Homo sapiens: one gene and its partners. The protein of the gene in region 4 purifies or fractionates together with the protein of the main gene of each other region. This does not show direct contact. Each region holds a gene or a part of one and is shown on either strand. Other genes may lie near its edges. The genes, in order: NDUFAF4, PPP2R2D, TIMMDC1 and ECSIT.

Region 1 (7,981 bases), on a different chromosome or scaffold from region 4:
AAGGATTCCCTATTTAATAAATGTTGCTGGGAGAACTGGCTAGAATATGCAGAAAATTAAAACTGGACCCCTTCCTTACACCATACACAGAAATCAACTCAAGATGGATTACAGACTGAAATGTAAAACCCAAAACTATGAAAACCCTAGAAGAAAACCTAGGCAATACCATTCAGGACATAGGCATGGTAAAGATTTCATGACGAAGACACCAAAAGCAATTGCAACAAAAACAAAAATTGGCAAATGGGATCTAATTAAACTAAAGAGCTCTGCACAAAAAAGAAACTATCAACAGAGTAAACAGACAACCTACAGAATGGGAGAAAAGTTTTGCAATCCATGCATCTGACAAAGGTCCAATATGCAACGCCTATAAACAAATTTACAAGAAACAAACAAATAATCCAATTAAAAAGTATGCAAAGAACATGCCCAGACACTTCTCAAAATAAAACATACATGCAGCCAACAAACATGAAAAAAAGCTCAATATCACTGATCCTTAGAGAAATGCAAATCAAAACCACAATGAGATAGCATCCCACACCAGTCAGAATGGCTATTATTAAAATGTCAAAACAAAAACAAAAACAAAAACAGATGCTGGCAAGATTGTGGAGAAAAAGGAACACTTTTACACTATTGGTGGGAGTGTAAATTAGTTCAACCATTGTGGAAGATAGTGTGGCAATTCCCCAGAAACCTAGAGGCAGAAATACTATCCAAGCCCACAATCCCATTACTGGGTATATACTCAAAGGAATATAAATTGTTCTATTATTAATAAAAAGACATATGCACATGTATGTTCATTGCAGCACTATTCACAATAGCAAAGACATGGAATCAACCTAACTGTCCATCAATGATAGACTGGATAAAATGTGGTACATATACACCATGGAATACTATGAAGCCATAAAAAGGAATAAGATCATGTCCTTTGCAGGGACATGGATGGAGCTGGAGGCCATTATCTTTAGCAAACTAACACAGGAACAGAAAACCAAATACTGCATGTTCTCACTTATAAGTGGGAGCTAAATGATGAGAACACATACACACATGGAGGGGGAACAACAAACACTGGAGCCTGTTGGAGGTCGGAGGGTGGGAGGAGGGAGAGAATCAGGAAGAAGATCTAATGGATACTGGGCTTAATACCTGGGTGATGGGATGATCTGTGCAGCAAACCGTCATCTAAAGTTGATGACTGTAGTGAACAAAACAATAAGCCTTCCAAAAATGTCTCTTAATCCCTGAACCTGCAAATGCTACCTTACATAGCAAAATGCACTTTACAAATGTGACTAAATCAAGGATCTTCAGATGGAGAGATTATCCTGGATTATCCACGCAGGTCCAATGTAATCATAAGGGTGTTACGATGGAAAGAGGGAGGTAGGAAAGTCACAGAGAAGGAAATGTGACAATGAAGTGATGCAACTGCTGGCTGCCAAGAAATGCGGGAAGTCTCTAGAAGAACCCCTTCCCCATTTAAAGTAAAAAAAAAAAAAAGGCATCCAGGAGGAATATATCTCTGCTGACACCTTGATTTTATCCTTAAAAATCTCATTTTGGACTTCTGATCTCCAAACTGTAAGATAATAAATTGTTTTGTTTTAAACCATTTGCGGTAATTTGCTAGCAGCAATGGGAAATGAATACAAATGAATACAATGACAAAAGTCATGAGTGCAGTAACCACAAAGCAGGCATCTGGGCATAATTGCTGGTTGATCATTCTAATCTCTAATCTGAGACCCAGTGTTCCTCAATATGAATACTGGATCTGCACAAAGCCTAGTTTGTTTTGGTTTTGAGTTTGTGGCACTACCCCCCGCTCCCAGTATTCTAGGTTTTACAGACCCAAAACACTGCATCACTATGAAATTGGCCAAACTTGGGAACCTTGTAAATTATTTCAGTTGGACTCCTACAAATTCTCTGGTTTCTAATCTGGAATCCAGGCCCTGGAGAGGTTCTCTCTGCCTGAACACCAGAACCTCTGCCAGAATAAGTCATTCCTCCATAAATCTGTTGTGCTCCTCACTAGTGGTTGAGATTTGATTGATGAAACCTCTGAGGGCTGTCCTGGGCCCCTTGAGCCAACTGTCACCTGGGTTTAGCTACTGTAATCCTTTGGAGAACGCAGAATGCTGTTGAATTATGTTCAAAAGAAGGAGTACCCAATGGTAAAAGTCTAGGCAGAGAGAAAGACATGAGGGCAGAGGGAAACAAAGTGGGGACTATTTCTGTGGCCAATGTCAGGCACAGGCAGGTGGCATTTTATGCCCGAGAACTAATGATTCCCACCCATATTCCAACCTTAATAAATCTAACAATACCACCACGTGTGCTGAGCACGTTAATCAGCAAATAAAAATCAAATTTAGCATTTTTTATTTTTTAAAAATTAAATTATTGAAGAACATGAGTCTTACCGTAATCTCAAATTTTTTTATCACTTTCATTCACCTATTCACCAGAGCTTCAGAATATGTGTCCTTTTTAAAACTGCTCCCTTCTCCTCTGAAAAATGAAAAACAATGCAAATATTGAACATCAGATTCTGAGCTGGGCATTGTACTAGACACATATTTTTAATCTGTGTAAAACCCCTTAGGTGATTACTATTATCCCAATTTTAAGATGAGCAAAGTGTGTTCAACCACATTAAGTTACTTGCATAAGGACTCACTTCTGGAAGCAGGGCTAGTGTTCAGGCAGAGAGAACTTGTCTGGGGTCTGGACTCCAGCTCAGGGATCCTACTTGTCTTTCAGTTCATTTGACCTTTATTTGATAATTGTTTAGTACCTACTGTGTACTAGCTGTTCAATGTGTTGAACAGTGAACAAAACAGACAAAGTTCTGTCCTCAGAATTTACATTCTAGTGTGTTGTCAAGACCCTGGGTTTATTAGTATCTTAAGATATTCAGCCATACACATGCATCATAATACTCCACTCAGATGGAAGCTTCATTCTAAGCAGCATCCTAGTTATACTTTCCTTGGGGATCTGACTTCAATCCTTAACATAAGCCCAACAGGAGTTCTTAAGTTCAGAGTTCCTGTTAATTTATATGTTTTGACAAGAAGAGCTGGAATTATGCATTTATGGTTCAGGTTTTATTTCCATGATTCCCAAAGGGTGACAGCCAATTGTGAGTTTCTGATGGAGTGCATCTGCCTTCTGTTTTGCAATTTGAGGGCCTGAGCAGCACTGGGCCAGGATCAGGCAAAGCAGCTGACACATGCTGGAAGCTCTTTCAATGTTGAATCCAAGCTCTATTGGAATGTGTGAATTCAAATAATTATTTCATATTGTAATCCCTACTGTCCTGACAGTCACTTCTAACATTACTTTTTCATACTGCCCGAAGTTCGGTGGAATTTCTATGAAAATGAGATTTTCACTTTTAAAATATTTTAACAGGCAGTGAGTCGAATTGCTACCATGATTAAAGCACATAGACATAATGAGGCAGATTAAAATTTCTTAGCACCCATAGAAATAGAAATACCGTGCCTAAAAAGCCCTGAATCACAAGCATGCTTAAAAGTATCAAAGATAGAAATCTTGGAGCAGCCTGCCACCTTCAGGATAACTTCCCAGTTAATGCTATCTGAGATCACTGATTTCAGCTTCTATAAATTCCAAATACCAATCCCTGTAAAAATGTTCAGTATAATTAAATAAAGGGCATTTAAATTAGAGTGGCTGAAGCCGTCTTCCTTGCAGTGCTTTTGCTCTGATTAAGCATTATACTTAATGATTACATTAGTTTTCTTTTTAAAAAACTTTCCCTTTCTTCATTTTGGTTCTTTGATTCTTGTTTTATTATTATTATTCTATTCGATTATCTTTACATCAATATTTTCTTACTTTAAGCTGGTTAAAAACATCCACTCTACTTCATTTTGCTAAGCAGAGATCAGAACACTAAAAATAGATTTTGCAGCCACAGTAAGAGAAATACTGTAACTTCCTTCCTACTGCTTCCTTCCTGGTGGGTTTTATTTTAGATTAATAACAATATTTCTAAAGGGTCTTAAATAAAAGCAGCACTACAGTAACCCATTCAGGAAATGGAGAGAGACGGAGAAGGTGAATGTAACACTCGTTTTTTTGTTTGTTTGTTTTTTTTTTCTGACGTCTTATTGTCTGTTCCTTTCATTAAATTACACAGAGGCTTAAAAAGAATGAAGAAGGCAAGAGAGAAGAGAAATAGGAGAGGGAATGACTCAGCATTTAGTAGCATGGAGAAGTAAATTAGTAGCAAAAATAAGATAAGGGAAAGTATAACTAAAATCGATACCATTAGGTCAAATGAGAACGGGATGTAAAAAATAATGGAAAAAGAATACAGTGGCTTGAAAATGCATCAGGCGGGGGGACAGGAAAATAAGAGGCATTTAAATGAGAGCGGCTGAGAACAAATACTCATCGAAAGGGAACATCCTTTCATTATTTTCCTTTCACAAAAGCAGGAAAGGGCAACTTGAGAGCCCAGTTTGACCCTGGTTCAGTAAGTTCCATTTTTATCGGCTAACTCTTTGGTGGCATTGCCCTGTGAAACAACTTCAAGGTCAACTTCCTTACGACTTTGATTTTCAGCTCTTCACTGAAACTTTGGAATCACGTGGAGTCTTATCCAATGCTGGGCCTCACTCCACAAGAATTAAATCAGAAAGTCTGGGGTAGGGCCCGGCACAGAACTTTACAGAGCTTCCCGGGTGACTCCCTCGGAGTTCCAGCGTTAAAAGCAACCGTGGGTCTGGGGACTTAAGCCCCGCCACCTCCCGCCGGAAGCGGCCCTCGTGGGAGCCGTCACTCGCCCCGAAGGGAGGGGCTCCCTTTTAAATGCCCTGGGCAGAGAAGCGGTGTGTGGCCTCCCGAGCGCTAGGGGGCGACGGGCACGCATTTAAGCGCCCGCGGCGGGGCTTCCCCTCACTTGTGCGCATGCTCCGGGTGTCCCGGAGTTGTCCTGCGCCGGTGTTCCCACGTGCGGCCTGAACCTGAGCGCATAATGTTATGAGGAGATGGGAGCACTAGTGATTCGCGGTATCAGGAATTTCAACCTAGAGAACCGAGCGGAACGGGAAATCAGCAAGATGAAGCCCTCTGTCGCTCCCAGACACCCCTCTACCAACAGCCTCCTGCGAGAGCAGATTAGTCGTGAGTGGTGCGAGGGCGTTTCGGGGCCCGGGGGCGCGGAGTCCCTGTGCTGCCCGGCTGTCCCTAGCGTGGGTCCGGAGGCCGAGGGATCGGCGTCAGCCTGCTCGGCCGCAGCCGCTCGGGTTGGCGGAGCGTTGGAAGGGGGAGCCGCCAGGCCGGTGACATTGAGACTGTCCTCCGCGCCCGCGGTGAGGTCGGCGGCCCCGCCTACTTCCGAGACCCAGAGGCAGCAGCCAGTGCTCCCGCTAACCAGGCCCTCGCCGGCTGCTGTCACGGACTTGATACAGGGAATCAAAATCCGAGAGGGTCACAGAGCTTTCTCTAGGGGTCTTCACTGGACGATGGACGCAGAGCCTGACCTGGAATTTTGATTTCCATCTAAAGTATTTTCCTAACAGTCCAAATGATTATGTTTATTTTTTAAAAAAATTAAAGTGGTTAGGCCGGGCGCGGTAGCTCAAGCCTGTAATCTCAGCACTTTGGGAGGCCGAGGCGGGCAGATCACCTGAGGTCAGGAGTTCGAGACCAGCCTGGCCAACATGGCTAAACCCCGTCTCTACAAACAATGCAAAAATTAGCCGGGCGTGGTGGCGCGCCTGTAGCCTCAGCTTGTCGGGAGGCTGAGGTGGGAGAATCTCTCGAACCCGGGAGGCGGAGGTTGCAGGGAGCCGAGATCGCGCGACTGCACTCCAGTCTGGGCAACAGAGCGAGACTCCGACTCAAAAAAGAAAATAAAAGAAAGCGTTTGTGTTAAGCGTTTAGGATATTACAGGAAATTTTCCTTGATTTTAATATTGTGACTTTTTTCCTTTCCTTAGTCTATCCAGAAGTTAAAGGAGAGATTGCTCGTAAAGATGAAAAGCTGCTGTCGTTTCTAAAAGATGTGTATGTTGATTCCAAAGATCCTGTGTCTTCCTTGCAGGTAAATGTGTGTTTAATTAAGTGAATACACAATTTACTTATTTTGGGGCTTCAGGAAAATGATTAAGTGTGGCAAGTAGTAAAAAGAGTGCTCTGCAAGTGTGTGTTGTGATCAATCTACACGCCTTGGCAAAGTTTAAGCACACTGGTGTAAGACAGCAAGACACTTATGCCTTGGTTCACTGGATATTTACCAGAATTCTAAAATAACTTGTGGAAGTATTGATACAAGCAACTGTGTGAATTATTTCATAGTATTTCAGAATTTGTAGGATTTGGTAAGGCATTACTTCCAGTGGTTGTCATTTGAGTGACAAAAGCAGAGCTTTAATATTATTTTCTCATTCTTCTGTGGATTGAGGTATGTTCTAATCTCAGAGACTCCTTTAGTAAGTGGTGTTGTTGGATTTTGTGGGGTGTTCCTGTTTGTTTTTTTAAGGATGTATTCAGATAGGATATTTAAAATTAGAAGGATCAAAGAATACATTAGGAATGGGAACCTATGTGTAAATCCATATTCTGTATTATGTAAGTCCTGGGCACAAGTGCTTTGTATATAGTGATGAACAAAACTAGTCCTTATTTTCACAGGGCCTATGATGTTGTGAAGGACACAGCCATTAAACAAATGAGCAACAATGTGACCATAATTATGGGAAAAGTACGTGCACTGCTGAGTATATTGGAGGGACCTCTTTGAAATGGGAGGATCAAGGATGGTTTCTGAGGAAGTGATAGTTATGTTCAGGCCTGAGGAGGGATCAGTTGGAGTTAACCAGATGAGTTTTTGGGGGCAGGAAGATTCTAGTTAGGGGTAAAGTTTGATTAAAGGCCAAGGAAGTGCCAACAACTTCCAGATTTTTTTTTTCATTCTAAAATATTCTGGTACTGTCCCTCTCTCTCTGGATATTTGCACAGATAGAATTATTAATATAATTTTCACTACAGAGGAGAAATAAAACAAGATTTGTTAATCGCTGCACATAGTAATTGTAGGGTTCAGTTATCACCACATGCTCACATGAAAAAAGTATAGGGTTAATGTCTGTGTTCTTACGTCATTTTAAAATAGGTGTTGAGTAATACTCCCCAAGTATTCTTTCTCTCATGTTACTTAATTATGCATCTGAAAATTCACTCTTGGGAGCAAAAAAAAATTAATGCTTTGTATGTATAAGACTCAGTTATACATATAATGCGTAAAGAGATACGTATATAGTGATATTAAAATTTCATGGGGACATTAGGAAAAGTCTAGATTCCTTAGGGAGAGTGATAATGAAAACTGGAATTGCCTTTTGTTTATGTTCTGTGTCCCTTTTTTTCCTTCGGGCAGTTCATGGTTGTGATGCCTCTAGACATCATTGATACTGTGCCTTTCATATGGCAAATAATTTATTTGTTGTCTGACTTTTTAACATATTTATTCAAAATTCTGTCAAATATTTCAGTCTTTTTGCCTTTTGTGGTAAAGGAATACTGGGCCCACTCTACCATCATATAAACTCTTCTGTATTTTCTTCCAGTAGTTTTATAACTACATTTTATATTAAAATCTTTATCTGGCATTAAATGTGGTCTTTGATGTGTGGAATAGATCAGTTGAACCTCTTTTCAAACAGATGGCTTGTTGTGTAAATATAATTTGTTGAAGAGCCCAGACCTTTCTCCACTTACTTAAAATGCATCTCTAGATACACATATGGGTCTATTTATGGACTCATCAGTTTTACTTATTTTTCTATTTATACACTAGAACCATAGTTTTAATTAATAGAGCTTTATAATGTGTGTTGATATTTCTTATAGTCTTCTCTCATTCTTTTAAAAAGTTTCTGGTCTCTTTTCACACATTAATATTTTTCCAGATGAATTT
Region 2 (7,024 bases), on a different chromosome or scaffold from region 4:
TGAACCCCCTGCACACCCGCAAGTCACTAAGACAGTGAACCCCCGCACACTCGCAAGTCACTGATAAGACAGGGACCCCCCCCGCAAGTCACTGCTAAGACAGTGAACCCCCCACACACACCCGCAAGTCACTGATAAGACAGGGACCCCCCCCGCAAGTCACTGCTAAGACAGTGAACCCCACACACACACCCGCAAGTCACTGCTAAGTGAACCCCCTGCACACCCGCAAGTCACTAAGACAGTGAACCCCCCGCACACCCGCAAGTCACTAAGACAGTGAACCCCGCACACCCGCAAGTCACTAAGACAGTGAACCCCCACACACCCGAAAGTCACTAAGTGAACCCCCCCGCACACCCGCAAGTCACTAAGACAGTGAACCCCCCGCACACCCGCAAGTCACTAAGACAGTGAACCCCCCGCACACCCGCAAGTCACTAGTGAACCCCCCGCACACCCGCAAGTCACTAAGACAGTGAACCACCCGCACACCCACAAGTCACTAAGACAGTGAACCCCCCCGCACACCAAGTCACTAAGACAGTGAACCCCCGCACACCCACAAGTCACTGCTAAGACAGTGAACCCCCGCACACCCGCAAGTCACTAAGACAGTGAACCCCCGCACACCCGCAAGTCACTAAGACAGTGAACCCCCCCCACACATGCAAATCACTAAGACAGTGAACCCCCCGCACACCCGCAAGTCACTAAGACAGTGAACCCCCGCACACCCGCAAGTCACTGCTAAGACAGGGACCCCCCAAGTCACTGCTAAGACAGTGAACCCCCCCGCACACCCGCAAGTCACTGCTAAGACAGTGAAACCCCCTGCACACCCGCAAGTCACTGCTAAGACAGTGAACCCCCCCGCACACCCGCAAGTCACTGCTAAGACAGCGAACCCCCCTGCACACCCGCAAGTCACTGTTAAGACAGGGACCCCCTGCAAGTCACTGGTAAGGTGGTGAACCCCCTGCACACCCGCAAGTCACTGCTAAGAGAGTGACCCCTCTGCACACCAGCAAGTCACTGCTAAGACAGGGACCCCCCTGCACTGTGTTGCCACTCTGGAAAGAAAGATGGTCTCCTATCCCATCCCCAGTTGGGGTCCTCACTTGCTAGAGTACATATGTGTCATCCCCACACACATTTATATTTTGTATACAGATTTTTTTTGTTTTTTTTTGAGACAGAGTCTCACTCTATCGCCCAGGCTGGAGTGCAGTGGCACAATCTCAGCTTACTGCAACCTCCACCTCCAAGGTTCAAGCGATTCTCCTGCCTCAGCCTCCTGAGTGGTGGGATTAAAGGCATGCACCACCATGTCCGGCTAATTTTTGTATTTCTAGTAGAGATGGGGTTTCACTATGTTGGTCAGGCTGCTCTCGAACTCCTGACCTCGTGATCCGCCCTCCTCAGCCTCCCAAAGTGCTGGGATTACAGGTGTGAGCCACTGCGCCTGGCCAATAGTTACAGATTCTTAAAACAAAACCGTCTTGTATGTCTTAAACATGTTGTATGTCATTGCACCGTACGCATTCCTCCTGAATTTTCTTTGTGGATTATCTTTGTGAGATCCACCTAGGTGATCCATGTAGTTCTAATAATTGATTCTCACTGCTTTTCAGTATATGTTATGATAGAGAACAACTTACCTGTCCATTCCTCTAATGATGCACCTGTGGGCTGTCTCCAGTTGTTTGCTATTTCAGGTATCTGAGCACGTTTTCTTGTCTGAACATGCAAGAAGCTCCCAACCCGACTGAATGTCACCAAGGAGGTCACAAGAAGGGTACTGGGTAAGACCACTGGTCTCCACCCTCTCCCCCAAACCATCATCATTCTGATGGGCATGAAAGGACGTCCCTCTGGCTTTACTTGCTGATCACTAAGAAGGATGAGCATTTCTATTTATTTTTCCATTTCTGCGAAACCCCATTCATGGTTTTTGCTCTTTTCTGAGTTGTTTGCCACCTTCTTGTTGACAACTAATTCTGCACCTATTCTGGATACTTAATCTCTGTTCGTTATCCTTTTGTGGATTTTGTTTTCACTTTTAATTTCAATATAAAGAAGTTTAAAATTTAATGTAGTTGAATTTCTTAATGTTTTCCTTGGGCTTTTGGGGCCTTCTTAAAGAAGCCCTTGTTTCCAGAGCTCACAAAGATGTCTTAGGCTTAGAAACACTCAGAGCTTATTTATTTATTGTGTGGGGCTGGTGAGGGCTCTAATTTTTCTCCCCCAAACACAGATAACTAAGGCCGTCCAGGTGGCAGAGCTTCAGAGTTTGCACTGCTCTTCCCTGCAGGCTGCGTTCCTCTGCCTATCTGTCTCAGCCCCTTTCTGCAGGGCCAGGCTCCCTTTACAGCTCGCTCTACTGAGTTTCCTGTTGTGATACATTGTTTCCCATTTGAAAATGCCTTTATCACAAGCAGATTCTTGAACGAGCATCTACTTCAAGGCTTGATTCTAAGCTGGCGGTGGAGAGTAAGGAGTCACACTTGCTGGATCTGTCACACGGCTTCTGGCTCCCACTGTGGCCGTGGCAAAGCCGAGTCTCAGTCTCGGTGTCCGCTCTCAGAGGTAATTTGCGTTTTTTCCTTGGGTGCATTTAAGATATTCTCTTTGCGTTTGGTGTCCTGCAATTTCATTATGAGATGGATGGATGCTGTGCTCCCGATCCTGTGTATTCAGGCTTTCATAATTTAGAGAAAATTGCTGGCCACTGTCACTTTAAGCCTCACACCCCCAAACTTTGTTTAAACGTGTGCTGTGCCTCACCCTGGCCTCCACGGTTCCTAGTGTCTCTTGTTTTCTGTTTGGCTCTTTAGCCCGCATTTCTTCTGGTTTTCCTTTCCATCCACTAATACAAGATCTGTTTAGCCAAAATGGACCTGCTGCTAAACCCACACAGTTTCATCTGTCATACTTGTCATTTCTAGATGTTCTCTGACTCCTTTCCAGTCTCCACGTCATGTTTGGCGGTCATGTATCATACTTGTCATTTCTAGATGTTCTCTGACTCCTTTCCAGTCTCCACGTCATGTTTGGCGGTCATGTATCATACTTGTCATTTCTAGATGTTCTCTGACTCCTTTCCAGTCTCCACGTCATGTTTGGCGGTCATGTATCATACTTGTCATTTCTAGATGTTCTCTGACTCCTTTCCAGTCTCCACGTCATGTTTGGCGGTCATGTATCATACTTGTCATTTCTAGATGTTCTCTGACTCCTTTCCAGTCTCCACGTCATGTTTGGCGGTCATGTATCATACTTGTCATTTCTAGATGTTCCCTCTGATTCCTTTCCAGTCTCCAGGTCACGTTTAGCGGTCATGTGGCTCCTGGTTCAGGCTGTTTCCTTCCTCTAGTCTGTGAATATCTCAAGCATTCTTAGTTTATCTTCTTTAACTTAGGATCTCAACAGCTGCCTTCTCGGAGGTTCAGTTCTGCTGTGGTTCTGCTGACTTGCTCACGGTGGCTTTTCCTGTATGTGCTTGGTAATTTTCACCTGTGAGCTCATGTTTAGATGATTTTAATGTGACGAAATCCAGAGAGACCTGGGTGTGCTGGCAGCAGCTACCCAGCATGCGTGTTCTCACGGAGTTTGCCAATGCCATTCTCTCCACCTGGGCCACTTCTCAGGGCTGTGCTTCCAGCAAGCGGCCTTGAGGAATGAGGTCATGTCTCTTCTAGTCAAAGTGCAGGTGTGTTTACTGCCCGCTGTGAAAGCAGTGGGGTTCTCCAAGCTCAGTGTGCATCAGCCACGGCCTCAAGTGTCCACCCGTGGGGAACCCAGGCCAACGAGAGGCTCATGCTGCCAGCTGTGCCATGAGAACCCGGGAACCTCATGTCTTCAGTCAACATCCGTGAGATGCTACAGGCTGGCAGGTCAGTCTGCAAACAGAGTAGAAGCCAGATCTGGAAACACGCCGGTCCCTCCCGATGCCCGCACACAGCCCTCGTGGAGGCAGGAGCTCCACAGTGTGAGATTTTACAGATCATGATGTAGCTGGCACAAACCCAAACTGCAAACCCTTGTGAGGGGAGGTTTTGCTTCCACTTCTCAGGGCAGTGCTGGCCACCCCCATGCAAGGCCTCAGACAGACAAACTGCCCTTTGGACCCTATCTGCCAGTGGAGGGAGACACCATCTTCAGGGGTCCCTGTTCCAACTCTACACCTCGTGTGGGCCAAGGCTTCAGCTCTTGAAAATTACCAAGCACATACAGGAAAAGCCACCATGAGCAAGTCACCTCGTGTGGGACAAGGCTTCAGCTTTGCACCATAACCTGCTGTTCACAGGGGCAGTGGTTCCTGCTATGGGCTGATGCTCCTGAGGCCAGCCGGGGCTGCAAGGCTGCTCTCGGAATAGACGCCTTCAGAGGCTGCCATTCTGGTTTCAGCTCCCTCTTAGTTTCTGGCCGTTGTGAGATTTCCCTTGCTTATCTGTGAGCTCAACTATGCACCTGAAGAGACACCTGCTGTATCATATCCAGCATTTCTAGGTGTTTATGCCAGAGGGTTTTGCAGAATATCCAGTCAATCACTTATTGCCAATAGACTCCTCTGTTCTCTTGAATTCTGAACAAAAATTCTATATAAAAATGGTGCAAGACAATCTTCCATCATCTGAAACGTAACTTTTTGCATAATAAAAAAAACGTAACTCTCAACCACACTAATCATAGCTATCTTTAAAGAATGTATACAAAATAAATTATCAAGGTACTAGAACCATCACATTATAAATTACATTGGTGTTTCAGACCAGCCATGACCACGCTGTGTCTGGGCATGACAGGCAGTGGCTCTGGGGTGTTTTCATCTACTTCTCTCCAGAAGGAAAGGCAGACTGCAACGCGGTCATTCCAGTGAGGTGAATCACTTCCCCACTTCCTTCCTTTTCACTCATTATCAGCATAATAAAAAGTAATACACTATCATTCACTAAGCATTTAACACATAGCCGGCCTGTACCTAGTGCTATACTTCTTGTCTAAATATAAATGGAATGACAAGCTAGGTGAGAAACTTGCTCAGAGATCCTATTTTCTCTACCTTGATACTATCATCCATCAATCAAAAGGTCTGGAAAACAACACCCTATGAGCGTCCTCCTCTGACGCTGGAGGACAGCTCGCCTCCCTCACTGACCTTGCACTCTCGGAAACCAGCAAGCTTGGGGCGACAGCTCATCTCCACGCAGGCCTTACCTATCCGAACCGTTCCAGCAACACTCAAACTTGTCAAAGATGCAGTCGTTCTCATAGAGAGAGCAGAGCTTGCTGCGCAGGTACTCGTGGACCTGGTGGGTCTCCACCGGCCTGCTCTCCATGTTGAGGTCCCACACCTTCACCGACAGGTAGTCTCTGGTCATCATGTACCGCCCACTATGACTGAATTTTACATCGGATATGGATGAAATTATTTCTGAGAAGAAGGACCTACTGCTGGGATCTTCAGGCTCTTCAAAAACTGAAAAACAAAATAAAATGTTTTCAGCTTCTGTTTAAAAATCAGAGAACAAATCATTTTCAAGTTCAAGTAGGAAGTGGCCCCTTCAGAGAGACTCTGGAAGGGCTTGGCCTCAACACTAGGTCTTCTGATCTTTCTGATTCTCTAGGTTTTCTGATCTTCTGTGACTTCCGTGGGCAAGAGCTTCGGATAAGACATTCTAGCACCAGCTATGGACAAGGGATGGGCATGAGAAGCGTAGACGCCCAAGTCTCACCCGGACCCTGAATGAGAATCTCTAGGCAAGGTCCTGGGCACTGCCATCTGTGGGAGCTCCTCGGGGCATCCTGATGTGTGCCCAGGTTCAGCACCACCGCATTCCTGTAGGAGTGTCTCCGCGTCCTCATGGCACCAGGCCCGAGCACGTGAAATTCTATCGCATACACATCACAGGAAGACACAAACAGCATTATATGGTCATGCAGACACAGCGGTCTGTGCCTCTAAGAAACTGCCTGCTTTTTGGAGGGTCGACAGTTTGTGGGTCTGCAGGAGTGACCACCTTGACTGGCAACGCTGTGGTCCTGATTTTAACCACCAAGACGGTCCCGCCGGTCAAAGCCAGCCAGCCAAGGTTTGTCTCCAATACTGAATATACACAAGCTCTACTGTGACAAAACTGGATTCCTATTTTCAGAAAGATCCTCCCGCCTCAACCTCCAGGGTAGCTGGGACCACAGGTGAGCACCACTGCACCTGGCTTGTGCTTCCTTGACCTGAAGCTGCTTTAGGTTTTTTCTCTTTTTTCTTGATGCAGGAGCCTGTGTTTGTCGGCTTAGCATCTGAAATTAACTTGAAGCCAGCTGTGCCGACGCCAAGCATTTACTCAAATAAATCACTCTGATGACAAATAGAACTGGAATCTGAAATTATTTACTCAAGAATTTTATGCTTAAGATACAGGCCAAATGCTACGAAACACTCATCCTCATCGCAGGAATTCTAGTAGAAATACGAATTCTTAAAAACACACTCAACCTCAGGAAAGAGAACAGGCGAAAAGGCTGCTGCACACGGTCCATGGGCACATTCCACCGAGGCACTGGGGGCGCCGCTGCACATGAGCAGCGGCTCAGTCTGGTGGGATTGACTGGCGGCTTCCCCATCAGAGGAAGTCACTGGACGTGTGTCTACCTGCTGGCACTGGAGGAAGGGTCAGCAATGTTTCAGGACACTGGGACACGCTGACTACAGTGCTCTATAAAGTCAAGCCCATTCTTTATGGCTAAAAATAAAAACAAAACCAGAACCTCCCTCACCTAAAAGGAGCTTGAAAGCTCACTGGATTAAAATGCTAGACTTTCAGCTAAGGGAAGTGGCTTCCAATCCAGCCAAGCTCAACATGAACAGGAGCTCATTCCAACAGCTGGGAATGGCCTCCTGTGTGCTGGCGGCCTCAGCCCAGGTCTCACGCACAGAGGCAGAGGCAACGGGTGGCTCTTGGCGGGACTCAGTGCTGGCAGCCTCTGAGGAGACACCCAGGCTCTGGGCAGAAGTGACCCC
Region 3 (7,024 bases), on a different chromosome or scaffold from region 4:
AATATAATCATGGGCATAATATATTCACAGTTGAGGGATTAGGCAGGATATTTGGGGGGACCACTTTAGAATTCTGCCTACCACACTTGGTTAAGGTGTTATCTGTTCAGTGTCTCCATTGCAAAGATATCTTTTTCCCAATGTGATTAATTAGTAATCTGGAGGGTGAAACTGAATATTCTGCTCTCCAGCTATCTTTTCATCATGTGTTTTTAATGATCCATTGACGACCCATGCTGTAATCGGTTGGTTACTAGAAAGGTGGTTGTAAATGTTGATAAGCTAGTTCTGTCAGTTCTTCTGTTTTTATTAGTTGGTATTTGTCTGACTAGAAGAGTGCTACCTTCGTCCTCCACCTGTTCACCCCTTTGTCTACCTCCTTTGAAGGAGAAGGTAATGCTATAGATTTAATGATTTTTTTAAAAATTTGAATTAAATAAAATCAGCATGTCATAATCTACTGCTGCCATTGCTTTTGTTGTAGTGTTAATATACCAGTTTGGTTTGAAGGGAAAAGTTGTAGGAGTTAGCAACAAAAATATTTTTTATTGTGGTAATAAACACATAGCATAACATTCACCATCTTAATCATATTTTAAGTGTATAGTTCAAAAATGCTAAGTATATTCACATTGTGCATGAGATCTCTAGAACTTTTTTATCTTGAGAAATGAAACTATATGCATTAAAAACTAATTTCCCCTCCCCATACCCTCCAGCCCTCAGCAAATATATTTCTACTTTCTGTTTCTAAGATTTTGACTACTTTAGATACTTCATATGAGTGGAATCATACACTATTTGTCCTTTTGTGACTAGCTTATTTACTTAGCATAATAATGTCCTTGAAGTTTATCTATGTTGTAACCTGTTGAACGGATTGCCCTCTTTTTTAAGGCTGCATAATACTCCATTGTATGTGTATGTTACATTTTCTTTAACCATCTGTCAGTGAACATTTATGTTGCTTCCACTTAGCAAAAATAGTTATTAGTATGAGGTTACTTAAATTGTAGCTGGAGGAAATTTAAGGTGTATGAAGGTCAAATACTTCTAGTCTGAGAACACAAGAACCAAACTCTCTTCATCACTATAATAATTATTATCTAAATCAGTTTCTCAATGGGTTGCTATTGGCATTGTGGGTGAGACAGTTACGCCAGACTCTTGAACTTCAGGATATTTTGGTGGTCCCACCCCCAAAAGCCAGTAGCATCCCTCCCTCAACCAGAAATGCCCTCCACATTTCCTGTCTCCTAGAGGAGCTGGTGCCATTCTGAACTAGAAATTTCATTTTTGAGAAATCTTTGGTGTGGGGCTACTTACTAGAACTTGTCATAAATATATATATTTTTCCTCTTTGTTTTGATTTATTTCTCATTCCTCATAAAAACAGCCAGTTTCTAGATCTGTTGTTTTATTATATATCAGTTAACTTTAGGAGGTTGTAGTGATTGTTTTTGTCTGTTGTTCAGACCAAGGAAGAGATTACCTCAATGTTTTTCTTTATTTGACAAGGACACTTTAATTCTCAAATGTTCCTGTACCTAATAGTGAACAAGTGGCTCTGGTGTTGCTCACACCTTAGCAGAGAATCTCACATGTTGCAAGGTCTAATGACTCGTTTTTCCTAAGCTTTCCCTCTCCTTTCTTCTCAGCACTCCTGTAGGAGGCCTGCTGATGGCATTTCAGAAGTACTCTGGTGAGACTGTTCAGGAAAGAAAACAGAAGGATCGAAAGGCACTCCATGAGCTAAAACTGGAAGAGTGGTAAGGAACATGTTGAGCCCAGGGAATCTTGGCTCTCTTGCCCCAGGCCTTATATAGTGGTGCTCTTTTAAACTTATGTACTCTAAACTGCCACTCAATTCAAAGAAGAGTTTATTTTTACCAAGTCCTTCAACTCATACTGTACATTGTCTTTTAATCTATTTAAGGAGAATGGAAAAATGAAAGAGATTGATTTTAGTTTTAATTTAATGAAGATCTTTCTTTGGATATCTTTTTAAGTTAAAAGTGGTGTAAATCTTGCTTGCATGTTTTTTCTTTTCCTGTGTTCTTAACTGCATAGGAAATTACCTAAAGGGAATATTCACCAAGGAGTGAGCTTTACCTGGCTTACTTAAAAAGTGACATCCTTAGCCTAGCAGGGTGGCTCATGCCTGTAATCCCAGCACTTTGGGAGGCCAAGACAGGTGGATCACCTGAGGTCAGGAGTTCGAGACCAGCCTGGCCAACATGGCAAAACCCCATTTCTACTAAAAGTACAAAAATTAGCTGGGCATGGTGGCACGTGCCTGTAGTCCCAGCTACTCAAGGAGGCTGAGGCAGGAGAATCACTTGAACCTGGGTAGCGGAGGTTACAGTGAGCCGTGATTGTGCTCCAGCCTGGGCCACAGAGCAAGACTCGGTCTCAAAAAAGAAAAAAAGTGACTTTTTTTTTTTTTTTTGCATACATATGTAAGTAAGACACAGCATGTTAAGTCTCCACAAAAATTCTATTTCTTGCTGTAGATGCAGAGGAATTAGGTGGACAATGGTTGTTCATGCACTGAATGCCACTGAGGAACATGAAAACTTTCACCTATTGCATCTAATCATCTCCTGGGATGCAATTTGTGGGATAGGGCAATCAGACTGATAGCTGACTTTGCACAGATTCAATATGTAAGATGAATATAACAGGCTGCCATCTAGTGCTCCTGAGTACAAATGATTTTCACTAGTTCACCTTCCTGGGTACCTAAGACAGCATTGGCTGCTGCTGCTGTTGCTGTTTTGGTATTATAATTGGATAGATGAGAAATCATTTTTTTCCAGTGTTTTCATTTGAAACCTCCATTTCTGCTAACCACACACACACAGACACACACACGGAAATTCTTAAGAGCTGTAGGTCCATCATCCAAGGACTTAAGTGCTATATGAGAAGAAAAGCATTGAGGTTGCAGTGAGCTGAGATTGCGCCACTGCACTCCAGCCTGGGCCACAGAGCAATACTTCATCTCAAAAAAAAAAAAAAATTAAAAAAGTAAATGAAACATTAAAAACTGCAGAAGTTTGTCAGTGATTTAGAGATCAGTGATTTTGAGATGGAAAAGCTTAAGAATGGCTGGCTATGGCCATTCTAAGGTCATTCACCTGGAGTCTTCCACCACTGGCAACCCTGCCAATTCTAGTGGCTGAGCTGCCACGTGCACCCCCTGAAGACTGGCTCATCCAGGGTCCACTGCCACCATTTACCTCCCCCCATCAGTTTAACAGCAGATTTGCCAGCAGAAACCTTACAAGTCAGGAGAGAATGGGATGATACATTCCAAGTGCTAAAAGGAAAAAACAAACAAACAGACAAACAAAACCCAAAAAACTCCTGCCAAGAGTATTATACCTAGCAAAGCTATTTTTCCAAAATGAAGGAGAAATAGTCTTCTCAAGACAGGCAAACACTGAGGGAATTTATCACCACTAGACTGCCTTATAAGAAATGCTTAAAGAACTCCTACATCTGAATGCAAAAGCACGGTAACTACCATTATGGAAACGTGAAAGAATAAAACTCACTGGTAGAGCAGATACAGAAAGGAATCAAACCTTATAATTACAAAAATCTACCAACCATGAAAATAAGAGGGGAAGAAAGGGGAACAAAGATTATACAAAACAACCAGGAAACAGTTAACAAAATGACAGGAGTAAATCCACACCTATCAATAACAATGTTGAATATAAACACTTTAAATTCCCCAATTAAAGATTTAGAGTGGCTGAATGAATAAAAAAAAGTTTAAAGACTCAACTATATATACTGACTACAAGAAACTCACTTCACCTGTAAAGATACAGATAGGCTGAAAGTAAAGGGATAGAAAAGGATGTTCATGCAAATGGAAACCATAAATGAGCAGGAATAGCTATACTTATGCTAGATAAAATAGGCTTTAAATAAAAAACTATAAAAAGAGACAAGGTCATTATATAATGGTAAAGAGATCAATTCAGCAAGAGGAAATAACAACTGTAAATATATATGCACCCAACACCAGAGCATCCATATATATATATATCTAAACAAATAATATTAGAGCTAAAGGGAGAGATAAACCCTAATGTAATAATAGCTGGGGACTTCAACACCACACTCCCAGCACTGGACAGATCATCTAGACAGAAAATCAACAAAGAAATATCAGACTTAAACTGTACTGTAGATCAAATGGATCTAGCAGACATTTACAGAACATCACATCCAACAGCTGCAAAATACACGTTTTTCTTATCTTGAAGTGTTCTTCAGGATAAACCATATGTTAGGCTACAAAACAAGTCTCAACAAATTTTTAAAGATCAAAATAACATCAAATATTTTTTCAGACCACAGCAGAATAAAACTAGAAATCAGTAACAGGAAGGACTTTGGAAACTGTGCAAATACACAGAAATTAAATAATATGCTCTGGAACAACCAATAGGTCAATGAAAAAATTAAGAAGGAAATTTAAAAATTTCTTGAAACAAATGAAAACAGAAACACAACATACCAAAACCTATGGGATACAGCAAAAGCATCACTAACAGGGAAGTTTATAGCAATAAATGCCTCCATCAAAAAGTAGAAATGTTTCAAATAAACAACCTAACACTGCACCTCAGGGAACTCGAAAAGCAAGAACAAACTAAACCCAAAATCAGAAGGAAATAAATAAAAAGATCAGAGCAGAGCTAAGTGAAATAGAGACTTAAAAACAAACAAAAAAACACAAAAGAAGAACTAAATGAAAAGTTGGTTTCTTGAAAACAAAATCAAGAAACCACAAGTTAGAAAAAAGACCCAATTAAGGTAAAAAACAAAAAAGGAGACATTACAACTGATACCACGGACATAGTCATATCATTAGAGATTATTATGAAACAACTGTATGCCAAGAAATTGGAAAAGCTACAGGAAATGGATACATTCCTGAGCCCCTATAATCTATCGAGATTGAGCCAAGAAGTAATAGAAAACTTGAACAGACCAATAACAAGTAACAAGATTGAACTGGTAATAAAAAGTCTCCCAACAAAGAAATGTCCAGGACCACATGGCTTCATTGCTAAATTCTGCCAAACAGTTAAAGAAGAATTAAGACCAATTCTCAAACTGTTCCGAAATATTGAAGATGAGAGAGTTCTTCCAAACTCATTCTACAAGGCTAGCATTACCCTTATACAACAACAAACAGACAAAGGCTCATTAAACAACAACAACAACAAAACCTACAGGCCAATGTATTCTACAAAACAATCCTTAACAAAATACCAGCAAACCAAATCCAAGAGTACATCAAAAAGATTATACATCATGAACAAGTGGGATTTATCCTAGGGATGCAAGGATGGTGCAGCATACACAAATCAATAAATGTGTTACATCATATAAACAGAAGGAAGGAAAAAAACCATATGATCATCTCAGTAAATGAGAAAAAGCATTTGGTAAAATTGAACACCCCTTCATGGTAACACCTCCCAAAAAGTTAGGGGTAGAAGGACTATTTCTCAGTACAGTAAAGGCCATATATGTCAAACTCACAGCTAATATCATACTGAACAGGGAAAAGTGAAAAGCTTTTCCCTCAAAGAACTGGAATGAAATAGGAATGCCCACTCTTACCAGTCTTGTTCAACATAGTATTAGAAATCCTAGCCAGAGCAGTTAGGCAAGAAAAAGAAATAAAGGGCATTGGAGGCCAGGCACGGTGGCTCACACTTGTAATTCCAGGACTTTGGGAGGCCGAGGCAGGCGGATCACTTGAGGTCAGGAGTTCGAGACCAGCCTGACCGACATGGTGAAACCCCATTTCTACTAAAAATACAAAAATTGTCATGGTGCACACCTGTAATCCCAACTGCGTGGGAGGCTGAGGCAGGAGGATTGTTTGAGCCTGGGAGGTGGAGGTTGCAATGAACCAAGATGGTGCCACTGCACTCCAGCCTGAGTGACAGCATGAGACAAAAGAAAATTAGGCACAGTAGTGCATGCCTATAGCCCCAGTTACTTGGGAGACTGAGGCTGAAGGATCCCTTGAGCCCAGTAATTCAAGGCAGCAGTGAGCCATGATTGTGCTACTGCACTCCAGCCTGGGCAACAAAGTGAGTCCCTGTCTCTTTAAAAAAAAAAAAGTGGGCGGGGGAGCTTGGGGGGAAACTTGTATTTCTCAAAAAATACCTACAAGTGCTAACAAGTATATGAAAAAGTATTCAACATAACTAATCAGGGAAATGCAAATCAAAACCACAATGAAATGTGGTTTGGGGACAGTTTGGGAAATTGGAGTGATATTTATCCCAATTAGAATGTCTATTATCAGAAAGACAAAAAATAAATTTTGGCAAGGATGTAGAAAGAAAAGGGAACTCATATACTTTTGGTAGGAATGCAAATTATTACAGCCTTTATAGAAACAGTATGGAAGTTCCTCAGAAAACTAAAAATAGAACTACTGTAAGATCCAGCAATCTTCCCTACTAGGTATTTATCCAAAGGAAAAGAAACCAGCATATCAAAGAGTTATCTGCGCCCCCATGCTTATTGTAGCACTATTAATAGCCAAGGTATGGAATCAACGTCAGTGTCCATCAACAGATGGATGGATAAAGAAAATGTGGTATATATCCACCATAGAATACTATTCAGCCATAATAAAGAATGTAATCCTGTCATTTGTGGGAACATGGATGAGCCTGGAGGACATTGTTATGTAAAATAAGTCATACACAGAAAGATAAATACTGCATGTTCTGTTGCTCATGTGGGAGCTAAAAAATGGGCTCATAGAAGTAAAGAGTAGAATTATGGTTACTGGAGGCTGAGGAGGGGACAGGGAAAGGCATAAGAAGAGGAGATTTAAGGGATTGATTAATGAATACAAAATTATAACTAGATCGGAGGCATAAATTCTAGTGTTCTGTGGCACTGTAGGATGACTATAGTTAATAATTTATTGTATATTTTCAAGTAGCTGGAAGAGAGGATATTTGAATGG
Region 4 (7,024 bases):
TCACGAGTTTGAGACCAGCCTGGGCAACATGGTGGAACCCCATTTCTACAAGAAATACAAAAATTAGCCGGGCGTGGTGGTGTACGACTGTAGTCCCAGCTACTTGGGAGGCTGAGGTGAAAGGATGGCTTCAGCCTGGGAGGTGGAATTTGCCGTGAGCCAAGATAGTGCTACTGCGCTCCAGCCTGGGCAACAGAGCCAGACCTTGTCTCAAAAAAAATATGAAGAGGTCTGAGGGGCTTGTTTGCCCCTTATATTATGTGAGGACACAGCAAGGTGTCATCTTTGAAGCAGAGAGCAAACCCTCACCAGACCTAGATCTGGTGGCACCTTGATCTTGGACTTCCCAGCCTCTAGAACTGTGAGCAATAAATTTTTGTTGTTCATCAATGACCCAAGCTAAGAGATTTTGTTAGAGCAGCCTGAACGGACTGAAGCAGAGGTCACTCAAGCTGTGCTAGCAGTAAGGACCATGGGAACCTACCAGGGGACTCAGCCAGAGAATCAGAACTCAATTCACGGCCAGGCACAGTGCCTCATGCCTGTAATCCCAGCACTTTGGGAGGCCGAGGCAGGAGGATTGCTTGAGCCCAGGAGTTCAAGGCCAGCCTGGGCAATATAGTGAGACCCTGTCTCTGAAAAAAAAAAACAGTTTTTTTAATTAGCCAGGCATAGTGGTGTGTGACTGGAGTCCCAGCTACTCAGGAGGCTGAGGTGGAAAGATCGCTTGAGCCTGGGAGGCAGAGGCTGCAGTGAGCCGAGATAGTGCCACCACACTCCAGCCTGGGCAACAGAGCAAGACCCTGTCTCAAAAAAGAACTTGATTCACCACAATCACTAGAGTGAGAGAAGGGGAGCCCAGGGGAGGAATGGCGGGAGCCTGGCCTGGGGTGGCAGCTGACGCTGTAGACAAGGGCGGATACCTGGTAGATGGTGACCCTGGCACTAAGGTCAGGCTCCATGTGCCGCAGGCCAAACATGGCCAGCTCCACAGGGTCCTGGGGCAGGTCCCGGGGCACTGGGAAGGGGTTGACGTTCATGAATCGAGGGAACCACAGCTTCAGGCGCACCAACTTGAGCATGGGGTAGCTTTTGCGTCCAAAGATCTGAATCAGCAGGAACTCCGTCTCCTTGTTGGGCATCACACCTGTGCTGGGCAGATGCAGGCAGAACCTCAGAGATGGAGGGGGAGGAGGGAAGGGAAGAGGAGAAAAGAAAACAGTGAAGTGAGGGAATTGATCACAGACAGGGAGAAAAGAATCAGAGAGAATTAGAAAGAAAAAGGCTCATGCCTGTAATCCCAGCACATTGGGAGGCCAAGGGGAGAGGATCACTTGAGTCCAGGAGTTTGAGAGCAGCCTGGGCAACATAGTGAGACCCCATTTCTAAAAGAAAGAGAGAAAGAGAGGAAGGAAGGGAGGGAGAGAGAGGCAGGGAGGAGAGGAGAAGAGAGGAGAGTGGGGGGAGGAGAGGGAGGGAGGGGGGAGGGGAGGGGAGGTCAGAGGGAGGCAAGAAAGAGAGATGAGTGATGAAAAGAGGGATTCGGAGAGGGAGAAGAGCGAGAGAGACAGAGACGGAGCCATGGAGGAAGGAGGGGCTGAGACTCAGGAGAGGTGCTGCCAGCTATCAGTGTAGCCCACTCCCCACCCTGCGCCAGCCTCCTGGCCTCACCGTGGTTCTCCATCTGCTCCAGGACAGCAATCCCACACTCCTGCTGCCGAGGGTAGTGGACGAAGATGCGCTGGATGATGTTGCGAGGCCGGAAGACCTCCTTGGGGAAGATGTTGAGCAGCTGGTTGTACACAGCCAGGTCCCGCTCGACACCATACTCCCGCATCTTGCGCAGGGCCAGGTAGATGAAGTCAATGTGGCCCCGCTTACGCACGCTGTGCTCCGCAAATTTCTGCACCGTCTGCAGGAAGCTCGCCTTGTCCCGTTCCCCACCAGGCGCCTGCCCAAACAGGTCCTCAAAGGGCACCAGAGCCTTGGTGGGCCTCTGCCGGGGTTCCGGTGGGCTGGGAACCAGGGACTGTTCAGAGCTATGGGCAGCTGCGCTGCAGTGGAGGCCCCGAGGGAGCCGGCGAGGGACCTGGGGAGGGAGGAGAACTGCTGGAATCTGGCACCTCTCAGTGTCTATGGGGGGCCGCCAGGCTGGCTCTTTCCTCAGAGAGGTCCCAGTGGCCTCCCTGAGGACTCGGAGGTATGGAACTGTGGTTACAAACCCAAGATTCGAGGCCATTACAAAGTGCGATAAAACACAATGCTGGCACAGTAGGGAGGAAACAGGCACTGTTAGCCATGGCTACGGGGAGCTGGTAAAAACTGCCACGGAGGCAACTTGGTAATATTCACAGTGATGACACACACATGCCGGTTTTTTTTTGGGTTTTTTTTTTTGGTTTTTTTTTGAGACGGGGTCTGGCTCTGTGGCCTAGGCTGGAATGTAGTGGTGCTACTGTGGCTTACTGCAGCTTTCAACTCCTGGGCTCAAGCAATTCTCCTCCTCACCCTGTCCAGCAGCTGGAACTACCGGTGTACACCACCACACCTGGCTAATTTTTAAATTTTCAGCAGAGACGGGAGTCGCACTATTTTGCCCAGGTTGGTCTTGAACGCCTGGCTTCAAGTGATCATCCCGTCTCCACCTCCCAAAGTGTTGGGATTACAGACATGAGCCACTGTGCCTGGTGGCCCTTTTTGCTTGTAATTTTTTTTTTTTTTTTTTAGACAGAGTCTCATTCTGTCACCCATGCTGCAGCGCAGTGGCGTGACCTCAGCCCACTGCAACCTCTGCCTCCCATGTTCAAGCGATTCTCATGCCTCAGCCTCCCAAGTAAGCTGGACTACAGACGTGCTCCACCACGCCCTGCTAATTTTTGTATTTTTAGTAAAGATGGGGTTTCATCATGTTGGCCAGGCTGGTCTCAAACTCCAGGCCTCAAGTGATCCACCTGCCTCAGCCTCCCCAAGTCTTTTTTTTTTTTTTTTTGAGACAGAGTCTCGCTTTGTCACCCAGGCTGGAGTGCAGTGGCGCGATCTCGGCTCATTGCAAGCTCCACCTCCCGGGTTCACGCCATTCTCCTGCCTCAGCCTCCTGAGTAGCTGGGACTACAGGCGCCTGCCACCACGCCCAGCTAATTTTTTGGATTTTTAGTAGAGACGGGGTTTCACTGTGTTAGTCAGGATGGTCTCGATCTCCTGACCTCGTGATCCGCCCGCCTTGGCCTCCCAAGTGCTGGGATTACAGGCATGAGCCACCGCGCCCGGCGTAGCCACCTTAAGTCTTGAGATTACAGGCATGAGCCACTGTACCCAGCCCCTTCTTTCTTTTTCTTTTTTTCTTGAGACAGAGTTTCACTCGTCGCCCAGGCTGGAATGCAATGGTGTCATCTCAGCTCACTGCAACCTCTGCCTTGTGGGTTCAAGCGATTCTCCTGCCTCAGCCTCCCAAGTAGCTAGGATTACAGGCGCCTGCCACCATGCCCAGCTAATTTTTATGTTTTGTTTGTTTGTTTTTCCTGAGATGGAGTCTCGCTCTGTTGCCAGGCTGGAGTGCAGTCACACGATCTCAGCTCACTATAACCTCTGACTCCCTGGTTCAAGCAATTCTTCTGCCTCAGCCTCCCAAGTAGCTGGGATTACAGGCACATGCCACCATGCCCAGTTAACTTTTGTATTTTTAGTAGAGACAGGGTTTCACCATGTTGGCCAGGCTGGTCTTGAACTCCTGACCTTGTGATCCGCCCACCTCGGCCTCCCAAAGTGCTGGGATTACAGATGTGAGCCACCATGCCCGGCCTAATTTTTGTGTTTTTAGTAGAGACGGGGTTTCACCATGTTGGCCAGGATGGTCTCGAATTCCTGACCTAAGGTGATCCACCCACCGTGGCCTCCCAAAGTGCTGGGACCCTTTAAGAGATGGAGTCTAGCTATGTTGCCCAGGCGGGAGTGCAGTGGCTATTCACAGGCATGAGCCAACTGGTCAGCACAGGAGTTTTGACCTGCTGTTTCCAACCTGGGTCAGTTCACACTTCCTTAGGCAACCTGGTGGTCCCCCAAGTCCCAGGAGGTCACAATATTAAGCAAAACTTAGTGCAGGACACTCCATCAGCATAGTGCACAACAGCCCAGAACTCCTGGGCTCAAGTGATCCTCCCACCTCAGCCTCCAGAGTAGCCAAATTCTGGTTCTAGATGACACAGTAACAAATTTCTTATTTTAAATTGAATTTTTAAATTAGAAGGGTTACATATAAGGCATCTTAAAAATATACAGCTAGTTATCAAGGTTGTACTGTGCTTTGATTGCACCACCGCATTGCAGCCTGGGCAACATAGTGAGACTCCATCTCTCTATGAAAAAATAAAAAAATAAGCGGGGCGTGGTGGTGTATACCTGTAGTCCCAGCTACTCAGGAGGCTGAAGCAGGAGGACTGCTTAAGCCCAGGAATCCCAGGCTGCAGTGAGCTATGATTGTGTCACTGCACTCCAACCTGAACGAGAGAGTAAAACCTTATCTCTAAAAAATAAATGAATGTGTGTGTGTTTATCTACACACACACACACACACACACAAAACGCTAACAAGTAAGAGCCAATATTAGTCCAGGCTCGGTGGCTCACACCTGTAATCCTAGCACTTTGGGAGGCTGAGGCGGGCAGATCACCTGAGGTCAGGAGTTTGAGACCAGCCTGGGCAACCTGCTGAAACCTCATGTCTACAAAAAAATACAAAAATTAGCCAGGCATGGTGGTGAATGTATGTAGTCCCAGCTACTCAGGAGGCTGAAGTAGGCAGATCAATTGAGACTGGCGGGTCGAGGTTGCAGTGAGCCAAGATCACGCCACTACACTCCAGCATGGGCAACAGAGCGAGACCCTATCTCAAAAGAAAGAGACAATATTTACCAAATATTCTTCCACTGTAGACACAGTTGAGCACTTTACAAATGTGAGGCCCTAGGTGGGGGGTACTCTTACTGCACTCATTTTACAGATGAGAAAAACCAAGGCTCAGGAAGATGAAGTGGGATGCACAGTGTTACACAGCTGCAAAGCATCAGAGCTGAGAATGGAGTCAGTGCCCTCAGTCCCCCTACTCTGCGGTCCCCACAGCCATCCCATATCGTTCTTTGATAAGGCAATGTTAAAAAAAAAAAAAGGCATTCATTTACAGTAAAATTTCAGGTTGGGCGCAGTGGCTCGTGCCTGTAATCCCAGCACTTTTGAGAGGCGGGTGGATCACTTGAGGTCAGGAGTTTGAGACCAGCCTGGCCAACATGGTGAAACCCCATCTCTACCAAAAATGCAAAAATTAGCCAGGTGTGGTGCCGCACACCTGTAATCCCAGCTACTCAGGAGGCTGAGGCAGGAAAATCACTTGAACCCGGGAGGCAGAGGTTGCAATGAGCTGAGATCACGCCACTGCACTCCAGCCTGGGTGACAGAGGGAGACTCCATCTCAAAAACAAAAAACAACTGAAATTTCAGTCAATTAATAATATAGGTGGTGTAGTATTGTACCACTTTGGGGTAAAAATCAGAAAGGAAGCTCTAAAATGCCTAACGAGGGGGAAACACTGCAAAGGAGGTAATGTAAATGAAATGCATAGTGCGGGGCCGGGCACAGAGTAAGTGCTCAATATGGGAACTATTAATATTCCCACCATCATCGTTATTGCTATCTATGGCTGTCAATCTGCTTTCGCCATCTGGTCACTATGGGTATAGGAAAGAAATTCAGTTTTCTGCCCCATCTTCACAAGTAGATGCAGGAGGAGCTGCTCACAGTCACCACACAAATCCACCGAGCTCATACATCCTTATTTTCAAAGTCAATCCCCTCACCCACGTAGGCACTAGCATCTCTTAAATTAGGGTCCAGGCACAGTGGCTCACACTTGTAATCCTAGCACTTTGGGAGGCCAAAGTGGAAGGACTGAGGGCCCAGAGGTTCAAGACCAGTCTGGGCAACACAACAAGACCATATACTTAAAAAAAAAAAAAATTAGCGGCCGGGTGCGGTGGCTTATGCCTGTAATCCCAGCACTCTGGGAGGCCGAGGCGGGTGAATCACCTGAGGTCAGGAGTTTGAGACCAGCCTCGCCAACATGGCAAAACCGCGTCTCTACTAAAATTACAAAAATTAGCTGGGCGTGGTGATGTGCACTTGTAATCACAGCTACTCGGCAGGCTGAGGCAGGAGAATCACTTGAACCCAGGAGGCAGAGGTTGCAGTGAGCCAAGACCACGCCACTGCACTCCAGCTTTGGCGACAAGAGCAAAATTCCATCTAAAAAAAAAAAAATTAGCTGGGCATGGTGGCTCAAATCAGTGATCCCAGCTACTCAGGGGGCTGAGGTGGGAGGCTCATTTGAGCCCAGGAGTTTGAGGCTGCAGTGAGCCCTGATTCCACCACTGTACTCCAGCCTGGGTGATAGAGCAAGACCTTGTTTCAAAAAAATAAATAAATTATGGACTTTTGGCCAGGCGCGGTGGCTCACGCCTGTAATCCCAGCACTTTGGGAGGCTGACGCAGGTGGATCACTTGAGCCCAGAGTTCAAGACCAGCCTGCCCAACATGGTGAAACCCCGTCTCTACAAAAAAAATACAAAAACTAGCCGGGTGTGGTAGTATGTGCCTGTAGTCCTGGGTACTTGGGAGGATGAGGCGGGAGGATTGCTTGAACCTGGGAGGTCAAGACTACAGTGAGCTGTAATCACACTACTGCACTCCAGCCTTGGTGACAGAGACACTGTCTCAAAAAACAAACACATAAACATACATACATACATAAACTAAGGACTTTTAATGGGACCTCGGCACTGATAGGCCAGCCCAGACTCACCAGAACTGGCTTCACAGAGTGGATTCTGAAGGAGTTGGGAGCAAATCCCAAGCTTACCTCCCTCTACCCAAAAGACTGCCTGGCTGGTGCTTACCTGAGAGATGGAGGTTCCTGTGAGGGCGGCCCCGCAGGTGCCTCCCCAGGCCCTACAGAGGCCTCGGGCCAGTAGGGTGGCC

What was found.
Region 1: the proteins of ECSIT (region 4) and NDUFAF4 purify together in Homo sapiens (affinity purification with mass spectrometry; 4 studies listed by BioGRID and IntAct, with this or other methods). This does not show direct contact.
Region 2: the proteins of ECSIT (region 4) and PPP2R2D purify together in Homo sapiens (affinity purification with mass spectrometry; 5 studies listed by BioGRID and IntAct, with this or other methods). This does not show direct contact.
Region 3: the proteins of ECSIT (region 4) and TIMMDC1 purify together in Homo sapiens (affinity purification with mass spectrometry; 5 studies listed by BioGRID and IntAct, with this or other methods). This does not show direct contact.

Annotation. Positions count from the first base shown.
Region 1 is NC_000006.12:96,894,869-96,902,849, reverse strand, and holds the start of NDUFAF4 (NADH dehydrogenase [ubiquinone] 1 alpha subcomplex assembly factor 4), read left to right. Parts: upstream 1-4,958; 5' UTR 4,959-5,048; coding exon 5,049-5,184; intron 5,185-6,002; coding exon 6,003-6,106; intron 6,107-7,981. UniProt on the Homo sapiens protein: Involved in the assembly of mitochondrial NADH:ubiquinone oxidoreductase complex (complex I). May be involved in cell proliferation and survival of hormone-dependent tumor cells. May be a regulator of breast tumor cell invasion.
Region 2 is NC_000010.11:131,945,988-131,953,011, reverse strand, and holds part of PPP2R2D (serine/threonine-protein phosphatase 2A 55 kDa regulatory subunit B delta isoform), read right to left. Parts: intron 5,483-7,024; coding exon 5,221-5,482; intron 3,903-5,220; coding exon of another isoform or gene 3,866-3,902; exon of another isoform or gene 2,608-3,865; intron 1-2,607. UniProt on the Homo sapiens protein: Substrate-recognition subunit of protein phosphatase 2A (PP2A) that plays a key role in cell cycle by controlling mitosis entry and exit. Involved in chromosome clustering during late mitosis by mediating dephosphorylation of MKI67.
Region 3 is NC_000003.12:119,515,547-119,522,570, forward strand, and holds part of TIMMDC1 (complex I assembly factor TIMMDC1, mitochondrial isoform 1 precursor), read left to right. Parts: intron 1-1,658; coding exon 1,659-1,769; intron 1,770-7,024.
Region 4 is NC_000019.10:11,512,133-11,519,156, forward strand, and holds part of ECSIT (evolutionarily conserved signaling intermediate in Toll pathway, mitochondrial isoform 1 precursor), read right to left. Parts: coding exon 6,943-7,024; intron 2,090-6,942; coding exon 1,672-2,089; intron 1,148-1,671; coding exon 924-1,147; intron 1-923.